Regions from separate parts of the Homo sapiens genome. Here region 2 is linked to region 1. A link means that fine-mapping ties the variant in region 1 to the expression of a gene that starts in the linked region. Tissue or cell type: whole blood. Region 1 holds a variant in brackets; the other region holds the start of a gene. All regions are shown on one strand. Distances are between the middles of the regions.

Evidence for each region. PIP is the estimated chance that this variant, and not a neighbour inherited with it, causes the effect.
Region 2: PLAAT1 starts here. The variant in region 1 is fine-mapped to the expression of PLAAT1 in whole blood (INTERVAL, PIP above 0.99).

What each region holds. Positions count from the first base shown.
Region 1 is chr3:193,396,899-193,405,006 of GRCh38, reverse strand. It overlaps ATP13A4 (ATPase 13A4), which reads left to right. Exons shown (of 30, transcript NM_032279.4): 30 at 2,143-6,040. The coding sequence ends at 2,355. Among named protein-coding and RNA genes, the nearest start is that of ATP13A5, 22 kb to the right of the region's middle. The variant TG/G (reference allele first, on the strand shown) is at 4,056.
Region 2 is chr3:193,236,833-193,244,940 of GRCh38, reverse strand. It overlaps PLAAT1 (phospholipase A and acyltransferase 1), which reads right to left and starts at 3,719. Exons shown (of 4, transcript NM_020386.5): 1 at 3,408-3,719. It overlaps MGC2889 (a long non-coding RNA gene), which reads right to left and starts at 3,162. Exons shown (of 1, transcript NR_026877.1): 1 at 969-3,162. LOC105374280 (a long non-coding RNA gene) reads left to right here and starts at 3,918. Exons shown (of 3, transcript XR_924833.3): 1 at 3,918-4,046; 2 at 5,096-5,191; 3 at 6,407-8,108. RefSeq lists a silencer at 3,568-3,817.

The DNA of each region.
Region 1 (8,108 bases):
CCTCCAGCTGAGAGGCATGAGAGGTAGTGTGGATAGCTTTAATTGCCCCCACCTTTAAAACAATTATTGATGTGTTTATATAGGTATGCTTGTATGTATGAGTTATTTGAGTAGCCAGTCAGAAGCGCTCATGTGGCGAAATTTTTTTAAAGAAATGTCTCACTAAGGCTTTCGTTTTTTTCTAGTTGTATTTTAGTCCATTCTCCCACTGCTGTGAACAAATACCTGAAACGGGGTAATTTATGAAGGAAAGAGGTTTAATTGGCTCATGGTTTTGCAGGCTGTACCAGAAGCATGGCTGGAGAGGCCCCAAGAAACTTTCAATCATGGCGGAAAGCAAAGGGGAAGCAGGCAGGTCTTACATGGCCCGAGCAGGAGGAAGAGAGAGAAGGGGAAGGTGCTACACACTTTTAAACAATCAGATCTCATGAGAACTCACTCACTATCACGAAAACAGCAAGAAGGAAATCCATCCCTACGACCCAGTCACCTCCCATCCAGCCCTTCCTGCAACATTGGGGATTATATTTCAGCACGAGATTTGGATGGAAATACAAATTCAGATCATGTCACTAGTTCTGCCTTGTATTTATAATGTGCGGTAACAGGACAGATCACCTCTCTGTAGTTTCCTCTTCCAGAGCAGCAAGGTGATACAGGTCATCAGAGTCCAGAACTAAAAAACACTGAAGGCAAGATGTAGAGATGGAGAGCACCAAAGTTTCTCTCTCTGTGTGTGTGTGTGTGTGGTTTCATCTATTTTGTTTTAAGGTTTGCTAAGGTTTCCTTGAAGTAAGTAAGATTTTAAAACCTTTACTCGATGCTCCTGCCTTATCCCAGCTCTAAGAAGAACTACTGTTTTCACGTCAATTAAGGAGGACAAAAAAACCTTGCTGCAGGAAAGTAGAATAACTCATCTGGCTAAGTTTCCAAGAGGCTGAGACGGTTATATGGATCTTTAACAGCCCCGCAGCCAGCAGATGGTCAGTTATCACAGGAATAATGCAGACTGGCTGTTCTCTATCCTTTCATGGGCAGTGGAACCTAAATGGCAAAAATGGGTAGATTTTAGGAAAACTACTATATCTGGCAAAGTTCCTTATAGAATCTCACAGAATTAACTCTTTCAAATTAGCAAAGATAGACATGAAAATCAGTTCTAATTCTGTGGGACAGTTTCACGTCCCATATTTTTTCTTTGTTTCTTTCACAATAACCTCTAAGATGGTCAATCTTTGTGAGCAAACATGATAAAAGTGGAAAATTAATATGATAACCTCTCATGAATTATAAGTTATAACTTGGGCTCTATTCAAGGCTCACTCTAACTCATGAAATAAAATGGCATTGCAAAATGTTTTCAAAGAGACATGTCTTTTGTAATCTTAATACTGTATTTCAGTGAAGGTGAAGGTTAGAGGCATGTGTGAACAGGACCACAGTGCATAGCCATTTGTTAAATGAGTAGTTCCAAAGGGTAGGCAAAGGGAGAGAGCTATGCCCTGCCCTGCCCTGCATTGTAAAGGGAGTTATATAAGCCTTACAACAAACATAAGGAAGGGATTATTCTAATCACGGAGACATGGATAGAGTAACTAATTTGCCCATAATAGGTGTCAGAACTGGGACCTAAATCCAGATCTGTTCAACTCCAAGACTGGCCCGTGTGAAATTAAATATGCAGTGATATGTCAGGATATATCAAAAACATGTCATACATGGGCCACATCTTTATATAGGGTCAATTGTGTTTAGTATTTAGTAGTAATTTTAATGTCATTTTATATTAAACAAAATATAGATGTGCTATAGAGTGAAACATAGAATTTGAATGATTTTAAATTCAATTTAGATGTGAGATTCAAAAGAAACTTCATTTTTGAGGCAAGCCATTTCAAGTTATGTTCCCAGAGTCTTGAAATGTTGTACCTCTTACTTCTCCCACAGGAGTTACTTAAGTAGAAACGTTTGAGAAACCAATACCTGTCCAATGAAACCACCTTAGATTGGTCCAGTGGTCAAGCTCTTTGTCAAGCTGGATCTAAGCAACCATTGCAGTAGTGACTTATGATGGCCTGTGGAGGGCTGTAGCCTCAAAACACTCAACCCTTGCTTGTAAAAAGTAATTATTTTATTTTGCAGGAGGCTGTTATTGAAAATCGAGCCCTGTGGATGATGATTAAAAGATGTTTCGGCTATCAGTCAAAAAGCCAGTATCGGATATGGCAGAGGGACTTGGCAAATGACCCTAGTTGGCCCCCGCTAAACCAAACCTCCCACTCTGACATGCCGGAGTGTGGCAGAGGAGTGTCTTACAGCAATCCAGTATTTGAGAGCAATGAAGAACAACTCTGAAGGACATGTGATATCCAAGTTGATATTACAGAGAAACAATGACAAAAGGGACCAGTTTCATTGATTTTAAGAAATGAGACTCTTGTAACATCAGCTGGAGTTTTGGGGCTACCTATCAAATCATGGTGACAAACTAAAGTCTGTTTGATAAAATACTGTCTACAGAGAAGAACATTGACCCAGAAGAGTGCTTTCCTCTTGGCTTCTGAAGGTATTAGAGGCATTCAGTGAAGGCAAGAATGGGCCAAGAATTTCTATGGGCCAAGAGACAAGCAGGCTAAAGGGGAAAAATATGTGATCTTTCCTCTTAGGACAGGACAATACTTTCCTTTTTATAAAAATGAGTTGAGGGGAAGTAGTACTGTGTATACTCACGGAGTTGTAATTTTTGAATTTTTACTTCATCGATGGAAAAACTAATGCGTGGGAAACATTACACCAATCTTTACTGTCTGGGTTCCTTTTCTCTGTAGTACTTTTCAGATTTGAGGCTTTTTCTTCTGTTTCTGGCCTTACCCAACATATTGTTAAGGATAAGCTTAGCCTATGCTGCAATAAAAAACAACTCTCAGATATCAGTGCCTTAACACACAAGTGCTTCTTTCGTGATCCAGGTGACACTCTGGAACTGCCATTCTTACAGCAGTGACTGCTTCAACCTGATGGCTCCATCAGCTCGATGCAAGGACTGTGTGTTGACTGTGATGGGGGAAGGAATAGACTGGAGATCACGTGTGGGCTCTTCACTGCCTCACCCCAAAAGTGGCACACATTGCTTTCCCTACTCATATCTCATTAGTCAAGGATTTGGCCAGGGAGCTGGAAAGTGCAGTCTCCTGTGTTTAGGGATGCTTCATGGGCTTATGAGCTGTCACTACACAGGGCCCCATGCTTAGAAGGTCCCCACACTTGGCTTTAACACTCTGCTGTTTCCATCTTAAAATTCTTAATTTTTGAACAGGGGTCCCCATATTTTCATTTTGTACCAGGCCCCACAAATGATAGAGTTGGTCTGGAACGTAGTCCTGGGAAGGAGAGGAAAATAACAGATCAGAAAGCACGAGTGCTGTCCACTACAGCCCACTTTTCCTAACCCCAGTAACTTATCCTATGTTTTAGGAATCTCTCATGTCACATGGCCAACTCCAGAAATTTTCACTCCTCTGCTTTATTATTTTTGAGAAACATTAGTCTCATGCTACAGCATTATATGGCACTATTGATGGGAGTTCTTACACAACTAGTACATTTTTTTTTTAAAGTTTGTGGCTTGAGTTTCCAGAAAACTAAAATTGTCCTTATTTTGTCACTATTACAATTTGGTTATATTTGATTTGTTCAGCACAAGGAAGACTCAGGTTTCTGTTACCTCAGGAGACAACACTGAACTCTAGGAGCACACCTACATATAATATTTTAAGGCAAAAGCAAAATTTGTATTATGAGCATCAAATCCTAGGTGAATGTTCTGATCAGGGGATAAGTGTCCTGGCCCAGGCTGGCTTTGGAACTTATCAATAGCATTTGCAAGCATTCCTTCCCCCTAACTGAGCTCTTGAGCATGGCTGATGGCTCTATGATTGCAGCTGATTCTAGGAACATGGTGTCTCCCAGCCATGAGGGTACCCTGTTACTTCTGGTTTTAAAATAGGGCGTGAAGATATTTTAGTGTTTCAAGACTGCAGAATCACTGTCTTTTT[TG/G]GTACAGAAAGAAATGTTTCCTTTTGCAAAGCCAGCCTCAGCAATGATATGGCAGTTCTGAATGTCCTTCTCTAAAAGTGTTTCTCATTTTCCAAAAGTAGAGGGTTGTAGGCAGGGGCAAGCTAGAGATGGTCTGTGACCTAGTCATGAGCAAGATCAGCCTGCACAGTTCATACTTAAATGTGCCCTTTGCTAAGTGCATTCACCTCCACTAACTCACCTGAATGGTACCAATTGTCCCATGACTGAACAAGGAAGGGCTTATCATCTCCACCATACAGATGAGAAAGCTGAGATTCAGTAATGGCAAGAGCAGATCTAGGCCTCAAATACAGATCTTCTGAGCAAACCTTATATTGCTGCCAAATACTTCCAAATTCCAGAGTTCCAGCAGGGCAGGTTGCTTAGTGTGATCTCACAGTCAAGCAAAGAATGGGCAACCCTTTGCTAATACCAGGCCCTCTGTTCAAATGAATGCCAGGCATCCTGCCAGGCCTGGGCTAGAGGTGTATTAAAAACAAAACAAAACAAAACAAAAAAATGATTGTCTGTCTTTCTGAGACTTTGAGTTGCTCTTGCCTTGATCCTAAGTGATTCTATCACTAGCAAAGGCTGGCAGGGAACAGGAAGAAAAGAATCTAGTCCTCCACTAGTCAAGCAGCCATAAAATCTTTGGGAAAAGAGACTCATTTTGAAGACTGTATTCCTGGGATTAACTACATCTTAGAAGCAGTAATTGAAGGAACAGGGAGTGCCCAGCCTGGAAAGAAAACAGTCAGGGGACTGTGAAGGGTTTTCCTGAGAAAGAAGGATCCTACTTGTGCCAGGTGGCATGAGAAGGCAAAATCAGGACAAATGGGTAAAGATCACAGTGGGGATGGCTTCAGGCCATCTGCCCTAACCACTGTCCTAACAGCCAGCACTGATAGCAGTGGAATGTACTCTAGGACATTGGAGGAACAAGTGGCTATTCAAGGGCCAAGTAGAGAAGGAAGTCAAGTATCAGATGAAACTCAATTACCTGCAAGATCTCTTTCAAGCTTGATACACCCAGTGTCTCAGTCTTATGCTGTGATGTGAACCTTTTTTTTTTTTTTTTTTTTTTGAGATGGAGTCTCACTCTGTTGCCCAGGCTAGAGTGCAGTGGCACAATCTCGGCTCACTGCCAGCTCCGCCTCCCGGATTCACACCATTCTCCTGCCTCAGCCTCCCAAGTAGCTGGGACTACAGGTCTGCCACCATGCCCGGCTAATTTTTTGTATTTTTAGTAGAGATGGGGTTTCATCATGTTAGCCAGGGTGGTTTCAATCTCCTGACCTCGTGATCCGCCCGCCTCGGCCTCCCAAAGTGCCGGGATTACAGACATGAGCCACCAGATGTGAACTATTTTCTACTACTACCCACACAGAATACCAGACAGACACTCATGGGAGGATGGGCTCTGGAGGGAGGGCTCCCAGCCTTGTCAGATCCGATTGTGTGGACATATAGACTCAATTGCCCTGTACCTTGAAAGGGGACCCCTAATGGAGATAAGATCCTAGGAAAGAGGGGCAGAGTAGGGGTCCTGATTGTCAGATTGAAGCTGGGGTAATACTTCTGATTTGTGAATTTTCTTAAAGAGAGGTGTTAAAAAACTTTGCATGAAAGAGCGTGGGAGAGTGCCCTAAACTTGAGGGCGGAGCAACCTGTTATCAATACACTTTCTTGAGCAGAGTCTGAAGGAGAAACGAACACAGTCACATAGTCCAAATCATTTGAGACGGTGCCCTGTATGTTCATCTCAAGGCATCTAGCTCTTACCCACAGAGAACCGTGACTCTGGGCTTCCCTCACTAAATATGTCTGTGACATCTGTATCCTTATGTGCTTATGGAAATGTTCACATACACACCTGCAGATGTGATGACTGAAAAAAACGATTATTTATTCAGAGCTTTGTATTTAGTTTATGCTATAATAAATTCAGTTGTTATAAAAATCAGTCTCTCTCTCTGCGGTGGAGTCTTTCATTCTGTCTAATGGTGTGGTTTACTCCAGTAATGTTGAATCAAACAACATCTTTACAAAGTTCCAGGCATTTTCTAACACCACAGATGCTATTATTCTCTGCTTTATACACAGGGCATTAGAGTTTACAAAATACTTTCATCCTTGTTCTCTCATTTAAGCCTCGTTAACAACCTTAGGAGGAAAGAAAGGCAAGGATTACTGTCTCTCTTCTTTTGATGAGGTACAAGGCTCTCCAGATGTCTCAGCAACCAGGACACATGGCCCATGGATGGAGGAGCTGGATTCAGATGCAGGTCCTTTATCAGCGAGATCCCTGCTGTGTCACTCTCCTATGTTGTTTTTCCTGAATGAAAAAAGAAGAGAAAAACCGTAGCATTGAAAAACAAGACGACAGCGAGGCAAATGTCCAATGTAATTGCCATAATGAGCACAGTTTCTTCCAGAAAGAGATTTTGGTGTTTCATGGAAGTTCTCTTGAACCTGACCATCAATCACAGAAAAGGCCAACTCCCACAGCTGAGGGAGGAAAATCATAACACCAGAGCCCTGTGAGCCCATTTCATGTGATTGGATAAAGCTCTGGTTTCTGACTTCAGTCTCCAGAAACAGAAAACTATATCCCTGCTTGATCTTTATTCAGACTTGCTTGGCACAGCTTTTCAGGTTCCTATAGATTTTCTTTTGGCTTTGAACTGTGCTCACTTCTCTATGCATAAACATTTGGAAAACTGCTGCCCTATAACATTCTGTCTGCCCTTTGGTTTCCATTAGACTTGTTAACAATGGCCTTTAAACTTTATTAGTAAAGTGAGTTTCTCCAAAATTAAACAAAGATAAAATTAACAACAAAACACAACTCTCCCGGAGTTGATGAAAGAGCCTTAGGAGTGAGCCACATGGCTTTGTCAAACACTCTGAGCTTGCTCTATCCTCAGGAAGACTGCATTTGCCATCCTCTCTGCCTTGAATGCTGCCCGCCACCAACCCCCTGTTGCCATTCCTGATTCCTTCTCCTTCAGATTTCAGCTCACTTGTCACTTCTTCCAAGAAGCCTTCCCTGACCACTCTGTCTAATGTTGCTCTTGCTCTACTACCGTGGTTTGTTTTCTGCATAATGCCTGTGCCACCCTTCAGATGACCAAGGCTGAACGAGTACTACTTGTTCAAGAACCCATAATGGGGAAATGAATGAGCTGAGTCTATAATCTAGACCTACTGACTTCCAAATCAAGGTTCTTTACATTTTTCACATCTAGCCAGATTCTGCTAATTAAATTAGCTAATCTGTCAGGGAAAAGAATGCAGGATGCTGCAGAGCATTGTCCATGGTTGGATGAAAAGCACTCAAAGAGTCATCCAGACTCTCCCAGCTCTTTTCCTTGCTGTCTTGACTTCGAAGTGTTTCAATGCCAAGAAAAATCTGATAAGTCACTGACCTGTGATAAAGGCTGCACACATACTTACCGTGGACATTCTGCTGAGTTTAAAATTGTGGTTAAAGGGGGTTACACTGCAGAGAGGTCTCACATGTGTTGTACGTATTTCACACTGTACAGTCCTAGGAGGCACCATTCATATTGTGCTGCAAGCCCAGGGTGATGGTTTTGCATCATATCGAGGAAGTTTTGTGGGTAAATGATGGCTTTTACCTTTGTAATTACAAACACATATATGCAATGAAAAGTCCCACCTGGGCCTGCTACAAGCAATTCCTAAGTCCTAGACCCTCTCTTGGCAGTGTCTCTTGTGCAGAACTTCCTCTCCTCTAAGCCCTTGGTTGTCACCACCTGCCTGATTACAAGAGCCTCTTAAGTAGTCTCCCTGACTGAGATCTTTCTTCTATTTTTTCTTCTCGAAGTCTCTATCTATTCTATTGCACAACTCTGATGATGTCATGTCCATGGCCAGAAACCCTTAATGGTCTGAAGTGTCTACCAGATAAAGTACACATTGCTTACTAAGGATTTCAAGTCCTTCTCCACTGGCCACATCTGGTTTCATCTCAGATCTTTTCCCTTATTGCCTTCTCTACTTCAGCA
Region 2 (8,108 bases), 160 kb after region 1:
AGAAGTGGGGCAGGCCTTGAAGAGGTGGTTGGATCAGGAGAGCTCTGTCCTCATGAATGGATTAATCTATTCATGGATTACTGGATTAAGGAGTTCATGGATTAAAGGATTATCATGGGAAGGGAACTAGTGGCTTTATCACAGGAAGAGAGACCTAAGCTAGCAAGGTAGCATACTCAGCCCCCTTACCATGTGATACTCTGTACCACCTTGGGACTCTGCAGAGTCTCCACCAACAAGAAGGCTCTCACAAGAAGTGGTCCCTTGACCTTGGATTTCTCAGCCTCCATAACTATAAGAAATACATTAATTTTCTTTATAAATTACTTAGTTTTTGGCATTCTGTTATAAATCTGTTATAACAGAAAATGAACTAATACATTAGTTTGATTATTTCTATAATGTATGGATAGATTAAAACATCACGTTGTACCCCATAAATATAAATCATTGTCAATTTAAAAAAAAAAAACAAAATGAGATATCATTATACATCTAACAGAATAGCTAAAATAAAAAACAGTGACAACATCAAATGTTGACAATGATGCAGAGTCATCATTGTCATTAACTGGATCACTCATTCACTGCTGGTGGGAATGTGTAGCTACTCTGGAAGCAGTCTGGCAACTTCCTTAAAAGTTTAGCTTGTAACTACTATATAATCCAGCAACTGTACTTCTAGGCATTTACCCCTGAGAATAAAGACAATGAAGATTTATAGCCACCCAAAAACCTGCACACAAAAGCTTATAGCAGCTTTATTCATCATATCCCAAAAGTGGAAACAACCAAGATGACCTTCAAAGGGTGGTTAAAAAAATTAAAAAATAAAAAACTGTGTGCAGGCCTACCATGGAATACTACTTAGGAATAAAGGAAAAAACTATTGACATATGCGACAACCTGAATGTACCTCTAGAGAATTATACTTAGTGGAAAAAATAAAAACACACAATGCCAAAGGGTCACACACTATATCATTCCATTTTTATAACATTCTTGAAATGATACAATTATTTAAAAAGATAGTGAACACACAGTGGTTGCTATGAGTTAAGGAAGTGGAGGAGGCAGTGGGAGGGAAGTAGGTGTGGCTATAAAAGGCCAACAAGTGGGATTCTAGTGGTGACAGGTTGTTCTGTTAGACTGCGAGCTGATTATTGTGGTGACCATTTTACAGATGAGGAAACTGAGACTCAGATGAGTTAAGTGCCAGACCTAAAGTCGCACAGGTAGTAAGCGACACAACTGGAATTCAATTTCAGGTGTCCCTTCTTATTCCAGAGTTCATGCTCCTTTTTTATACCATTGATTAACATCATTAACCAAAGGAATTTCTACTAAGCAACATTTCATTTTTTCCCCTTCTCAAATACTATTAGATGGAGCAGCTGCAAAAGCATGCAAATACATATTTCATATAACACCACAGGAAGTTTTTAAATATTCATATGCAGAACCAGAAGATAATGTGAAGTGGAACCTCGCTCCAGAATCCCTGCACCTTTCCAGTTGCGGAGTTTCCGGGTGAGGTTAGAATATCTCTAAGGTGCCCAGGCTCAGATTTTAGGCAAATATCTGTAACCTGTCTGATTGGGTAAGTTTTACATGGACCACATCTACCAATTTCATTCAGACAAATTGTGTAATGCAGTGCTTCATAAGTATGAGAAAACACAGAACCAATTAAAGACACATTTATAACATCCTCTACTACAATCTTTAAGGTAAAAAAATGCTTCATTTTGAGTCCATCTGCAAAGAACTGTATGAACAGTTTATAATAAAGAGTGGCATGAAGGTTAAGTCTGTAATCTTTGTATAAGAAATTTCCCATTTCAACTGGCCAACTGGCAAAACAGGCTGCTGTCTTTATAGCTCTCTGTTGGTCCCTGGGGATGCATCAAAATAAATAAATGTTCCCTGCCGATAGGGACAGGCTGAACGTCTGCTCATGCCTAAGAGGCCACCCAAGTTACAGAAACACGAAGAGCACTTTTTTAACAACTACTCCCAAGAATGTTACTGGAAGTCTGAAACACAATCGCAGGTGATCACAGGCTACCCCTGGCCCAAGGCTTCTAATTAGGTTTCGACCTTTTCCCATTCCAGCTGCACTTTCCATCCATAATCCTCCTACACTGTGATGTTTCCATGAAGCCCTGTATTCCCAGATTGGCTAATTCATAGACTCTCAGTGCTGCAAAGATCCTTGGTCCAACACTCTCACGCTACAAAGGAGGGTTCCACTCCTTGGCCAAATTAACTATCCGCTGCCACAGCACTGTCATGCCTTGCTTGGAATCTTCCAGGGCTTCCCACCACTGACTCCCCATCTTGGTCCCCCGCCCTAGAATCCTGGCATCCTTATTAATCTCTACATTCTAGGCAAATCAAACTATCCATTATTCTTCCCACTCAAGAGTATTGTTTTGTTTTTGTTAATACTGAACCTTCTACCCAGAATGCCCATTTCCAAGTGCCCCAAATGACTCAATCTTAAAAAATCCAAGTCGATGCCACCTTCTCCCCCTCTCTCCTCCACTCCCCAGGTCGGATTGTCTTCCTCCGATCCGCCTTCTTTAGCTTCCACAGGCATCCATCTAATGGCCCATTCACTTCCTACACCTGCCTCAGCTACTGGTCTCTGGGAAATTGTCTCTTGTGGGGCATACGCTATGGAGGGATGCTTCTTGTTTTTCTCTATACCATGCGTCCGATCTTTTGGCTTCCCTGAGCCACACTGGGAGAACTGTCTTGGGCCACACATAAAATACACTAACTCTAATGATAGCTGATGAGAAAAAAAAAAAAAGCGCAAAAAAAAAACCTCTCATAATGTTTTAAGAACATTTACAAATTTGTGTTGGGCGGCATTCAAAGCTGTCCTGGGCCGCACGCGGTTAGTGAGCCACGGGTTGGACAAGCTTGCTCTATACCTTCAGTCTCCGGTGAGAGTGCCTCGCACAAGTAACTGCGGAGCAAATGTTCATTGAATGAAGGAATGAGGAATCCAAGCCCAGAGAAAACATGAGTGACTTTTTCCAGCACGAGTCATATTAATAGTCTCGCATGCCAAAGGAATATCACCATCCAACTTTCCAAAATCCAATACGATAATAATTACTTGTATTATTATTCATATTCACTTCAGTGAGGACAGTAGGCTTAAAAAGCCTTAAACAGGTTGGGTTTCTAGTCCCAGCTCTGCCACTTAATAGCTGTGTAACCTAGGGAAGAAAGTCTCTTGCCCTGTGGACTGAGTTCCCCAGTCTGTGAAAAAGAGGAGGGTGGATAAGCTCCGTTGTTCTCTAGTCATGTCAACTTTTCCCACTTGCCAGTTGGTTAGAACACGGTTGGTTGCCGGGGCGCCTCGAGGTCCTCCCCCACTCCGCCCAGCACACCTCACTCTCAAGCCGGGGTCTTCTTCTCGCACCGGGAGGCAGCTGTGTGTGTCCTGGGGTCTCTCTTGGCCTCGCAGCTGCCGACCTTGCCGCCGGCGGCCGCGGGACGACTCCATCTGTACCCGGGAGACACCCGGGAGGCAGGCGCCAGCCATCACTCGGGGCCGTCCTCCAGGGCCAACGCCAGCACCAGCGCCGCCACGCTGAAACGGTCCCGGCGGCCCCTCCGCGGCTCTGAGACGCCCGCACGCCGGGGGGCCGACGCGCTGGGCTCGGCGTCCGGGCGCTGCCGAGCCGGCACGAGGCTCTGACCATGGGGAGCCGCCCGCTCCGCCCAGGAGGCGGGGCACAGTCGCTCCGGCTAGACCTCGCTTGGCCCCGAGCCCAGCTTCGCCCGCCCGCCCGCCCGCCCGCCGGGGAACTGCACCTTCTCGCGCCCCGACGCAGCCGCCTCCGCGCGCGCACGCAACGCACGCGCTCCAGCGCCTACGGTCAAAGCGCCGCGCAACCAGTTATTCCGCCCCCGGCTCCGCACCCGCGTCTCGGACGTTCCCGCAGCCAACGTTTAGGGCACCAGGCGCTGTGCTAGGCGCCGCGGTTATAAAGATAATCGGTTTTGTTGAGCCCAGGAATGTTCGGGTACACCCATCATGAGTACACCCACTCTTCTAGCCTAACAAAAATTCCCTTAGGGCCCAAGGAATCATGGTACCTGCACCCCAAGAAAGCCTCTGGGTCTTTGAGTCAGCAAAGTGGCGGAGGAAGGACTGGCCCTAAAACAACCTCACTGCTTACACACACCACACCACACACACACACACGCCAGATAGCCAGCAGAGACCTCCAACCACACACACACACACACACACACACACACACGCCAGATAGCCAGCACAGACCTCCAGACCCCGCCCCGCCCCCCTCCCCCGGCCCCCCTCCGCCCCCACGCGCCAAATAGCCAGCAGAGACCTCCAGGATATGGCTGTGAGTTTAAAAATAAAGCTGGGGCAGGGAGAGTATCCTTTTTCTCACTGCTAAAAAAAGAGGCCAGGAATACTAACCTAGCTAAGTAAGGAACCCTTGAAGACTAAGTGAACTTTATGGAGCGCTGCACAGGACGTTGCTTCAACCTAGTCATAACTTAGATTTTTATTCTGATGTAAATGGAATCTCAGCTAAAAGGATTTTTTCCCACTTATTTGAAGGCTAAAAAATATCTCGCTAATTTTATGTATTTTGTCATAATGGGATAACAACTACCTAAATATGCAACTTTTTTCGTAAAGCTATTGGGTTGTGTTATGAAGGTTAAGGGTGAATCTGAGTGATCTGAAACTTTGGGTCTGGATTGGCACCTTTGGAAACAGTCCACAGAAGGACATTGAAAACGTAATTATTGACAAAGTGGAAACTAGAACACTTGAGAAGTTGTAGCTTTTTTTATGCATTAATATTTTCTTACATGTTCCTTAATATATATCCAGAGTTATAAGCTGAATCAGATATGCCTTTCAATACCCTTTTAATGTCTCAAAGAGAAAGCCATAAACATGCATTTGCTTTATGTTTCTCAACTATTTCGATGGAGTCATCACTGTAGGAAGTGGTTCATGATTTTATACAGGAGAGGTATTGTGAGCATTTATAAAGCCATCCTGCTTATGAGCCAAATTTATTATGTTTGCTAGGTTAATCTGTTTTCTCTAATCAAACACTTAATCATCCAGTCTCCTCTCTGCGTTATGGATTCATGAATGTGAAGTGAGGAGAGTTGCTCAGTCAAGGTAAAATGATAAATTATCTTTTCATTTTCAGGGTATTTGTGATTAAATGCTTCATAATAGAATTAAAATGAAATAAATCTTGTAATTTCACTTCTAGATTCCTGCCAGGTATAGATAAAACGCATTTGGTTAAGAACAAATTCAATTCAATGCCTGCGTGGAATTTATAGGAGAAATGTAGAAAGCGTTGTAGTTCAGGAGAGCCCTGAGTTCTCTCTTCATTTCTATGGATTGGAGAGAGAGTTGATCAATCGGTGGTACTCTACGGATGAGCAGTGGAAAATTAAAATTTCCATTAAGAAAGAATGAGGACTTAGCCTTGGGCAGTAATAGGCAAAGTTTGTCTTAATCTAGAGTTGTAATCTGGGGCTATGATTGGAGCAGATGTTAAATTACACTTAAATAAACAGTTCCTATTATTTTGGCCATTATAAGTGAAGCCCTGTGTGGCTGGCATTCTCTGTTGCTGCCTAATTTTATAGTAAGAGTTGAAACATATTGAAAAAAGCATAATGGAGATGACTTAGTCCTGTTTGTTGTTGAGTGAATAAAGTTCACATTCCAGAAAAAGCCCTATAAGGTAACAAAAATTACAATTGGCTTTTTAACACATGGAAACTCAAACCAATTGGCATTGTGTGATATTAGACAGAGGCCTCAAACAACCCTATATGTTTTGTGCATATTTTACAATTAGCAAAGCGCTTTGATTCTGTTGTCTCATTTGATCCTCTCAGCAAACTTGTGACTGCTCAGTCCTGGCAGTTGGTGTGAGGCCTGAGATGTGGAGCTCTGTATTCCAGTTCTCCTGGGGTAGAACTGAAGTCAGGCCTCTTAGGCAAGAGCTCTTCCCCTACCCAGACTCCCTCTTTTATCAGACAGCAAAAGAAAAACCTTTTTTTTAATAGGTTTTCAAAACCACAAAAATAAAAGAGCTGCACAAATAACTGAAATATTTGCCAAGATAATGCAGAGATGGTTGGCTACGTTTTATGTGAGCTAGTAAGAGTTGAGACAATCATTCCAATAGTTCCAACCTCAGCCCCTAAAATCTATGCTGTAAAAGTAAAAGCTTTTTTCTTGACTTGAATGTCCAGGCCACCTGCCTGCTCAGACTGGATTTTTTTCCTGTACAAATTACTTAACCCTCTAATTCAATCTGCTTTGTGTATTTCTGGTCAATATCATTGCAACTGAAAATCTGTTTGCTTACAGGTTTTTCACGTACTGCACATCCAAGCTAGGTAATGTCTCTGCAACTGCTGCTTCCTGATGATTATATTCATCTGAAATGACTAAGCTTGGTAAATTAGGCTAAGTCAAGTCTGTGGAGCAGTCAAGGGACGAATGAAGAAAAGAATAATGTAATGGAGGCTACACCAGAGACATGGGAATCTATCAGCATGTGGCAAGGAAGGAAGAACATAGCTATGTCTTCTATATAAAGAGTTGCCTGCATTCTTCTCAGAAAAAAAAAGACAATGGAAAGGCAATGAGTCATGAGTCTTGGGTTCTAAGCCTGGTTCTACCATTTGCTAGCTGTATGATAAGAAGCATGTTTGTTAAACCTCTGAGCCTCAGCTTATATATATACGAAACAGGAAAAATAGTAACATAGCCTGCCATCTTCACAGATTTGTGAAAAGGTCTTTTAAATATCCAAAAAGCTTAGTATGTATAAGAAAGATTAAATTGGCTGGGCGCGGTGGCTCACGCCTGTAATCCCAGCACTTTGGGAGGCCGAGGCGGGCGGATCACAAGGTCAGGAGATCGAGACCATCTTGGCTAACACGGTGAAACCCCGTCTCTACTAAAAATACAAAAAATTAGCCGGGCGCGGTGGCGGGCGCCTGTAGTCCCAGCTACTCGGGAGGCTGAGGCAGGAGAATGGCGTGAACCTGGGAGGCGGAGCTTGCAGTGAGCCGAGATTGCGCCACTGCAATCCGGCCTGGGCTAAACAGCGGGACTCCGTCTCAAAAAAAAAAAAAAAAAAAAAAAAAAGAAAGATTAAATTTAAGCTATGGGTATGACACAAAAATATACTTGAAAATTATTCTTAAATTTCACCATATTTAGGAAGTGGCTAAATATCAACATAATATTCCTACTTCTGCATTTCCTATTTCTCTCTTTGCATTTTAAATTCAGAGGAAGTTATCTCATTTATTAATTGTAACATTTAAATAGTATACATTTCTGTCATTTAAAAGTGGTACTGACAATGTAGTTAAACCTTTATTATCTTTTATTGGTTTAATAAATAAAAGTGCATGACTAAAAACAGGCCACAAATATCAATGATTTTGGGGATTTCGCCCTACAGGAAAATCATACAATGCATTTGGAAAAAGGTAATTCTGACTTGTCCTCTACGAAATGCTAAATTTCTGCACAAAAGCTTAAAGCACAAGTGTTTACAGGATTCTTGGTGACAAGAAAAGTGATAGTAAATGTGCTTTAGCACTAAAATTCATGTATCCATGGAAACCTGTGAAGTTCTGTAAGCACACACACACGGCCTGCGGTATTTATTGAAGAGCTAAGACAGCGATCAGTGGGTTACTATGCTGTGAAAAGCCGACAGATTGCTGGGAGCTGCTATGCACAGGCATGGATGAGGTTGTTTTTCCCCTGCTAAATGTAATTACAGAGGAATTCAGAAGTCTCAGATATTACTGAGAAAAAAAAAACATGTTTATTTATTTATATGTACTTGTACCTTTCAGAATACAGTGTCCTTTTTTTACAGTGTCAGATTTTTTAGTCAGGAAAGCCTTGAAAAGTCATCAGCATTTCCCTTTCCCACACATTTGTAGCCATAGTCAAAAACTCTCTAGTAGATTTTCCATGTGTGCAAAGAAAGATATTTCTTGGATGTTAGGAGAGAATGCCCCCAGTTTTTTCCAAACTGATTATT